Linked DNA regions of Homo sapiens. The protein of the gene in region 2 interacts with the protein of the main gene of each other region in a pairwise test. Each region holds a gene or a part of one and is shown on either strand. Other genes may lie near its edges.

Evidence for each region. The genes of interacting proteins can lie anywhere in the genome.
Region 1: the proteins of C5AR2 (region 2) and ABCA7 interact in a two-hybrid assay, tested with the Homo sapiens proteins (one large-scale study listed by BioGRID and IntAct).

Annotation. Positions count from the first base shown.
Region 1 is NC_000019.10:1,053,524-1,057,171, forward strand, and holds part of ABCA7 (phospholipid-transporting ATPase ABCA7), read left to right. Parts: coding exon 1-8; intron 9-264; coding exon 265-313; intron 314-482; coding exon 483-587; intron 588-669; coding exon 670-818; intron 819-1,046; coding exon 1,047-1,171; intron 1,172-1,256; coding exon 1,257-1,355; intron 1,356-1,573; coding exon 1,574-1,828; intron 1,829-2,383; coding exon 2,384-2,416; intron 2,417-2,542; coding exon 2,543-2,720; intron 2,721-2,806; coding exon 2,807-2,976; intron 2,977-3,383; coding exon 3,384-3,561; intron 3,562-3,648. UniProt on the Homo sapiens protein: Catalyzes the translocation of specific phospholipids from the cytoplasmic to the extracellular/lumenal leaflet of membrane coupled to the hydrolysis of ATP. Transports preferentially phosphatidylserine over phosphatidylcholine.
Region 2 is NC_000019.10:47,335,031-47,338,678, forward strand, and holds part of C5AR2 (C5a anaphylatoxin chemotactic receptor 2), read left to right. Parts: intron 1-2,064; exon of another isoform or gene 2,065-2,139; intron 2,140-3,648.

The sequences.
Region 1 (3,648 bases), about 46 Mb from region 2:
TCGAGGAGGTGTGAGGCCTGGGTGGTGGTGAGGTGGGGCCAGGAGGAGGGCTTCCTGGAGGAGGTGGTGTTTTGAAGGATGAATAGCGTGTTTATGAGCAGCAAGGACATTCAGGGAGGAGGCATGGCACATGAGGAGCTCTGGTGGCTCAGATGTCCCTTGGGAAGGCCTGGGGGACCCATGGTGTAGGAGGGGTGGGGGGCTCACAAGCCCCCAGTTCTCCCTGTCGGTGTCCAGTCTCTGAGCCCCTGCTTGTCTCCCCAGATCTTCCTGAAGGTGGTGGAGGAGTGTGCTGCGGACACAGATATGGAGGGTGCGGCCACAGCTCCCTGACCCCTGACCCCAGTCCAGAGTGGGACCAGAGGCCAGGTCCCCATCCCTGGCTTAGTGTGGCCCAAGGCATAGCCTTTACCCTATACCTGATTCCTGATCCCCCAATCCGTGACCCTCAACTTTGACCCTGACCCCTGATGGCCCTGCAGATGGCAGCTGCGGGCAGCACCTATGCACAGGCATTGCTGGCCTAGACGTAACCCTACGGCTCAAGATGCCGCCACAGGAGACAGCGCTGGAGAACGGGGAACCAGGTAAGTCCTTCCCAGTGGCCCTGGGGTCCTCCCAGCCACCCCCCCACAGCAGCGTGAGCACTGACCCTCTCATCCCTCACAGCTGGGTCAGCCCCAGAGACTGACCAGGGCTCTGGGCCAGACGCCGTGGGCCGGGTACAGGGCTGGGCACTGACCCGCCAGCAGCTCCAGGCCCTGCTTCTCAAGCGCTTTCTGCTTGCCCGCCGCAGCCGCCGCGGCCTGTTCGCCCAGGTGAGGAGGGCTAGCACCAGGGAGTCGCATGGGAGTCCCTGAGTTCCCTACCCTGGCCGTCCACTCAGTGGCCTAATCCAAACCCTTACCCCCGTGTGTATTCCCAACCCAAAGCACATTTATTGAGGGCACTGGGGAGCCATGGGTGGTTGTAGAGCAGGAGCAGGGACAGGTGCAAGCAAGCCTGGAGGGTGGATGGAAGCAGCAGCTGATGGGCTGGTCCCCCAGATCGTGCTGCCTGCCCTCTTTGTGGGCCTGGCCCTCGTGTTCAGCCTCATCGTGCCTCCTTTCGGGCACTACCCGGCTCTGCGGCTCAGTCCCACCATGTACGGTGCTCAGGTGTCCTTCTTCAGGTGGGTGCAGAAGGAAGGGGCTGGTGGCAGGAAGACTAGGGACCTGGGGGTACAGCCCTGACCCTACATCTCCCCTCACACACAGTGAGGACGCCCCAGGGGACCCTGGACGTGCCCGGCTGCTCGAGGCGCTGCTGCAGGAGGCAGGACTGGAGGAGCCCCCAGTGCAGCATAGCTCCCACAGGTGAGGCGTCTTGTTGGCCTGGACCTTTCCCCTCTCTGGCCTCAGTTTTCCCATCTGGTCCCTGGCCAGGGAGCCTCAGGGGGCACCTGGAGCATCCCCTGTGCCCACCTGGGAGCTGGGAGCCTCTGTGGCTCCAGGAACCCCCAGAAGCTGGGTGCCCACAGACCTTCACCTTGACCCTGCAGCGCCCTTGAGTGTGCACAGCCCATTGTCTGCAGGTTCTCGGCACCAGAAGTTCCTGCTGAAGTGGCCAAGGTCTTGGCCAGTGGCAACTGGACCCCAGAGTCTCCATCCCCAGCCTGCCAGTGTAGCCGGCCCGGTGCCCGGCGCCTGCTGCCCGACTGCCCGGCTGCAGCTGGTGGTCCCCCTCCGCCCCAGGCAGTGACCGGCTCTGGGGAAGTGGTTCAGAACCTGACAGGCCGGAACCTGTCTGACTTCCTGGTCAAGACCTACCCGCGCCTGGTGCGCCAGGGGTGAGCCATGCCCTGGGACTCAGTTTCCCTGGCTATAGCATGGGTCCTTGGGTTGCTGGGGCTGGTGTGGTCCTGGAGGAGGAAGTGGAGGGGTTGGATGCCCAGCTTGGGGCTACGGGCTGGGAGTCTCGCGTACCTTCCTTTCCTCTTTTTTTTTTTTTTTTTTTTTGAGATGGAGTCTCCCTCTGTTGCCCAGGCTGGAGTGCAGAGGTGTGATCTCAGCTCATTGCAACCTCCACCTCCCAGTTTCAAGCGATTCTCCTCCCTCAGCCTCCCGAGTAGCTGGGATTACAGGCACGCACCACCACTCCCGACTAATTTTTGTATTTTTAGTAGAGATGGGGTTTCACCGTGTTGCCAGGCTGGTCTCGAACTCCTGACCTCAGGTGATCCACCCGCCTTGGCCTCCCAAAGTGTTGGGATTACAGGCAGGAGCCACCGCGCCCGGCTTTCTTTCCTGTTTTTGTCCACCCTTGACTCTGTGCTCCCCTCTCACCATCTCTCTCTCTGTCCCACATCCCTGTCTGCCTGTGTCTCTGTCCATCTCTCCCACAGCCTGAAGACTAAGAAGTGGGTGAATGAGGTCAGGTGAGGAGGGGTCTAGCTTGGGGTCCCCTGCCCCAGTTCCACTCCCATGCCCTCTGCCTGCCCCCTGGGAGCTCTCCCGGCCCCCCCGGCCCTCAGCTCCCCTTCCCTGCCTGCATGGCCCCACAGATACGGAGGCTTCTCGCTGGGGGGCCGAGACCCAGGCCTGCCCTCGGGCCAAGAGTTGGGCCGCTCAGTGGAGGAGTTGTGGGCGCTGCTGAGTCCCCTGCCTGGCGGGGCCCTCGACCGTGTCCTGAAAAACCTCACAGCCTGGGCTCACAGCCTGGATGCTCAGGACAGTCTCAAGGTGGGAACTGGGGGGGCAGGTGGGCGTCCTGTCACAGCAAGGTCCAACCCCATTGCTCTGACCCTATGACCTTGACCCCCACCCAGATCTGGTTCAACAACAAAGGCTGGCACTCCATGGTGGCCTTTGTCAACCGAGCCAGCAACGCAATCCTCCGTGCTCACCTGCCCCCAGGCCCGGCCCGCCACGCCCACAGCATCACCACACTCAACCACCCCTTGAACCTCACCAAGGAGCAGCTGTCTGAGGGTGCACTGTGAGTCCCTCCACCCTGCATGTCCTACCCTGCACGTCCTACCCTGCCTCCATTTCTCTGTCGTTTGGGGTGGTGGGAGCTGGATTTGAACCCTGACACACTCTTGCTTTATAAATGGGGGATAGAAACTGTTCCTCTGCTCCCTAAGCCAGGGAAATGGGACCTCCTCAGACTCAGCGGGCCCCAGCCTCCCCCACACATCCTCATCCCACCAACCTTTATCCTGCCTGAGACCTGTACAACCTCTGCTGCCAAATCCCAGGCACCCTCATCCCTAAATTGCCCCTGCCATCTCTGCCACTGCTGACTGCCCCATAGACCTTTGTCCCATCAATGGCGTGTTCAGCTCTGCTCTGAGCAACCCATGCACCCTCACCCTACAACAGCTCTCATGTCTTCACCTCCAGGATGGCCTCCTCGGTGGACGTCCTCGTCTCCATCTGTGTGGTCTTTGCCATGTCCTTTGTCCCGGCCAGCTTCACTCTTGTCCTCATTGAGGAGCGAGTCACCCGAGCCAAGCACCTGCAGCTCATGGGGGGCCTGTCCCCCACCCTCTACTGGCTTGGCAACTTTCTCTGGGACATGGTGCGGGGGCTGCTTGGACGGGTGGGGGCCCAGCCACTGCTTGCCACTGCCCTGTCTGGCCCCTTGTAGGCAGGGGCTTGTCCAAGA
Region 2 (3,648 bases):
CTCGCCCCCACGCCCAGCTAATTTTTTTTTTTTTTTAAATCTTTAGCAGAGATGAGATTTTATCATGTTGGCCAGGCTGGTCTCAAACTCCTGACCTCAAGTGATCCGTCTGCCTAGGACTCCCAAAGCGTTGGGATTACAGGTGTGAGCTTCTGCACCTGGCCCTGTTTCTCATTATTCTCCTTACCATTGTTATTGAATGGCCTTTAGTTAATAAGCACCACTTGGGCAGACAGTGGACTGTTTTTGATGCTTTGAGGACGAATGGGGTTGATATCTGTACAGATAGACAGGAAAACAGATATCGGGCACGTTAAGTGGAAAAGATGAAGAAATGGAACAACGTATGTTGAAAGCTCCCATTTCTGGTTAAGACGTTACAAAGGAAATGCCATCTACGATACCATTGCTTTGGGCTTACAGCTGGGCAAATTATATGCACAGAAAGTTTCCTGGATTGGGCTGGGCATGTTGACTCACGCCTGTAATCCCAGCACTTTGGGAGGCCGAGGTGGGCGGATCATGAGGTCAGGAGATTGAGACCATCCTGGCTAACACGGTGAAACCCTGTCTCTACTAAAAATACAAAAAATTAGCCGGAAGTGGTAGCGGGCGCCTGTAGTCCCAGCTACTCGGGAGACTGAGGCAGGAGAATCATGCGAACCCGGGAGGTGGAGCTTGCAGTGAGCCGAGATCGCACCACTGCACTCCAGCCTGGGCGACAGAGTGATACTCCGTCTCAAAAAAAAAAAAAAAAAAAAAAAAAAAAAAAGAAAGTTTTCGTTTTCTGGATTGTAATCAACAAGGGCCAGGAAGGGTGGAGTCTTTGCGGGGTGAGAGGATGCGTGTGGACAGTGATAACAGCAGCTAGCCTACGTATGACACCCACTGAAAACCAGCGCTATACACTCAGCTCTACCCTTCTAACTTGTTGAATTCTTACAACACCCCCTAAGGCAGGAATATTATTATTCCCATTTTACTGAGGCACAGATAGTTTAGGTGACTTGCCCAAGGCCACACAGCTGGTAGGAATTTGAGGGTTTTTGTTGTTGTTGTTTGTTTGTTTGTTTTTTATGATGCAGTCTCGCTGTTGTCGCCCAGGCTGGAGTGCAGTGGCATGATCTTGGCTCACTGCAACCTCTGCCTCCCGGGTTCCAGCGATTCTCTTGCCTCAGTCTCCCGAGTAGCTGGAATTACAGGAGCCCACAACCATGCCTGGCTGATTTTTGTATTTTTAGTAGAGACCAGGTTTCACCATGTTGCTCAGGCTGGTCTTGAACTCCTGGCCTCAAGTGATCCGCCCACCTCGGCCTCCCAAAGTGCTGGGATTACAGGTGTGAGCCACTGTGCCCGGCTAGGGGGGGTTCAGTTTTTAAATGCTGTACTCTTTCTTTCTTTCTTTCCTTCCTTCCTTCCTTCCTTCCTTCCTTCCTTCCTTCCTTCCTTCCTTCCTTCCTTTCTTTCTTTCTTTCTTTCTTTTTCTTTCTTTCTTGGGACAGGGTCTCACTCTGTTGCTCAGGCTGGAGTGCAGTGGCGCGATCATGGCTAACTGCAGCCTCAAACTCCTGGGCTCATGTGATCTTCCACCCCAGTCTTAGAAAAGGTTGGGATTGCAGGCACGAACCACTATGCCTGGCTAATTTTTAAATTTTTTGTAGAGACAGAGGGTCTCACTGTGTTGCCTAGGCTGGTCTTGAACTCTTGGCCTCAAGCGATCCTTCCTCCTCAACTCAGCCTCCCAATGTACTGGGATTACAGGTGTGAGCCACTGCACCTGGCTAAATTCTGCACACCTTTTACTCTAGGGATAAAAATAATACGAAAGTGGAATGCCAGACTCCGAATACACACACCAAGTGGCCTGGACTCTTCACTGCTACCTGGCATGGGGGAGGGGAGTGCCCCAACTTCCTCTCTGTCCTTCCTGTTGCCTCAACACCAGCTGGAGTGCTGAGCAGTGCCAGCCAACCCATAATAGTCAGCAGAGAGCCTCAGGGCCAGGTCACTCTGACATTGTGGGGGTGGGGGGGTGGGGACTCCTGCCTGGGTCCTGTGCTACCCACAGCTTTGTCTACCGGAGCCTGTGTGCCACGTGCTGGACAAATCTTAACTCCTCAAGGACTCCCAAAACCAGAGGTAGGTTCACCTCAATGACTCTTGTTTCCCCGATGAGGAAATAGGCACAGCCAGCTGCAACTGACACCCACAGTCATGGAGGCCGGGGCTGCTCAGGACCACTTGCTGTGCTGCCTGCCAGCTCTCCAGAGCCCAAGATTTGGAGATGGTAATATTCTAGGGCATGGGGTTCTGCAGCGGGGACTAACACACTTTGAAATTTACCTACTTAGGGCTGGGCGCGGTGGCTCATGCCTGCAATCCCAGCACTTTGGGAGGCTGAGGTGGGCGGATCACAAGGTCAGGAGTTCGAGACCAGCCTGGCCAATATGATGAAACCCCGTATCTACTAAAAATACACAAATTAGTTGGGCATGGTGGCGGGTGCCTGTAGTCCCAGCTACTCAGGAGGCTGAGGCGGGAGAATTGCTTGAACCCTGGAGGCGGAGGTTGCAGTGAGCCGAGATTGCGTCACTGCACTCCAGCCTGGATGACAGAGCGAGACTCTGTCTCAAAAAAAAAAATTTTACCTACTTAGCTGAGTGATCTTAGGTAAATTACTTAACTTCTCTGTGCCTTATCTGTAGAATAAATATAACAATAGTGTCAAATTCAGACAGTTATTATAAGGTTTCAGTGAGGTCAGGCACGGTGGCTCATGCCTGTAATCCTAGCACTTTGGGAGGCCGTGGCAGGCAGACCACTTGAGGTCAGGAATTCCAAACCAGCCTGACCAACATGGTGAAACCCCGTCTCTACTAAAAATACAAAAAATTAGCCCCGGGCATGGTGGTGCACGCCTGTAATCCCAGCTACTCGGGAGGCTTGTGGCAGGAGTAATGCTTGAACCCAGGAAGCAGAGGTTGCAGTGAGCCAAAATAGCGCCACTGCACTCCAGCCTGGGTAGCAGAGTGAGACTCCGTCTCAAAAAAAAAAATAAATAAAATAAAATAAAACAAGGTTTCAGTGATACAGTGTTTAAAGCTGCGTGGTGGCCACTGCCTGTAGTCCCAGCTACTCAGGGGGCAGAGGTGGGAGGATCACTTGAGCACAGAGTTTGAGGCTGCAGTGAGCCGTGATTGCACCACTGCACTCCAGCGTTGGCAAGATGGCGAGACCCTGTCTCTAAAAAAAATATATATATATAAATTTGCCAGGTGTGGTGGTGCACACCTGTAGTCCCACGTACTCAGGAGGCTGAGGTGGGAGGACCACTTGAGCCCAGGAGTTCGAGGCTGCAGTGAGCCAAGATAGTGCCATTGCATTCCAGCCTGAGTGACAGAGCAATATCTGTCCCTAAAAAAAAAAAAAAAGTTGACACAAAACACAAAATGTTCAAGAAACAGTGGCTTCCAATAATAATAATTTTATTATTATTATTATTGTCAGGCACAGTGGCAATCATGCCTGTAATCCCAGCAGTTTGAGAGGCTGAGACAAGGCAGGTTGCTTAAGCCCCAGAATTCAAGACCAGCATGGGCAACATGGTGAAACCAGATGACCTCCAAAATAATAATAATAATAATAATA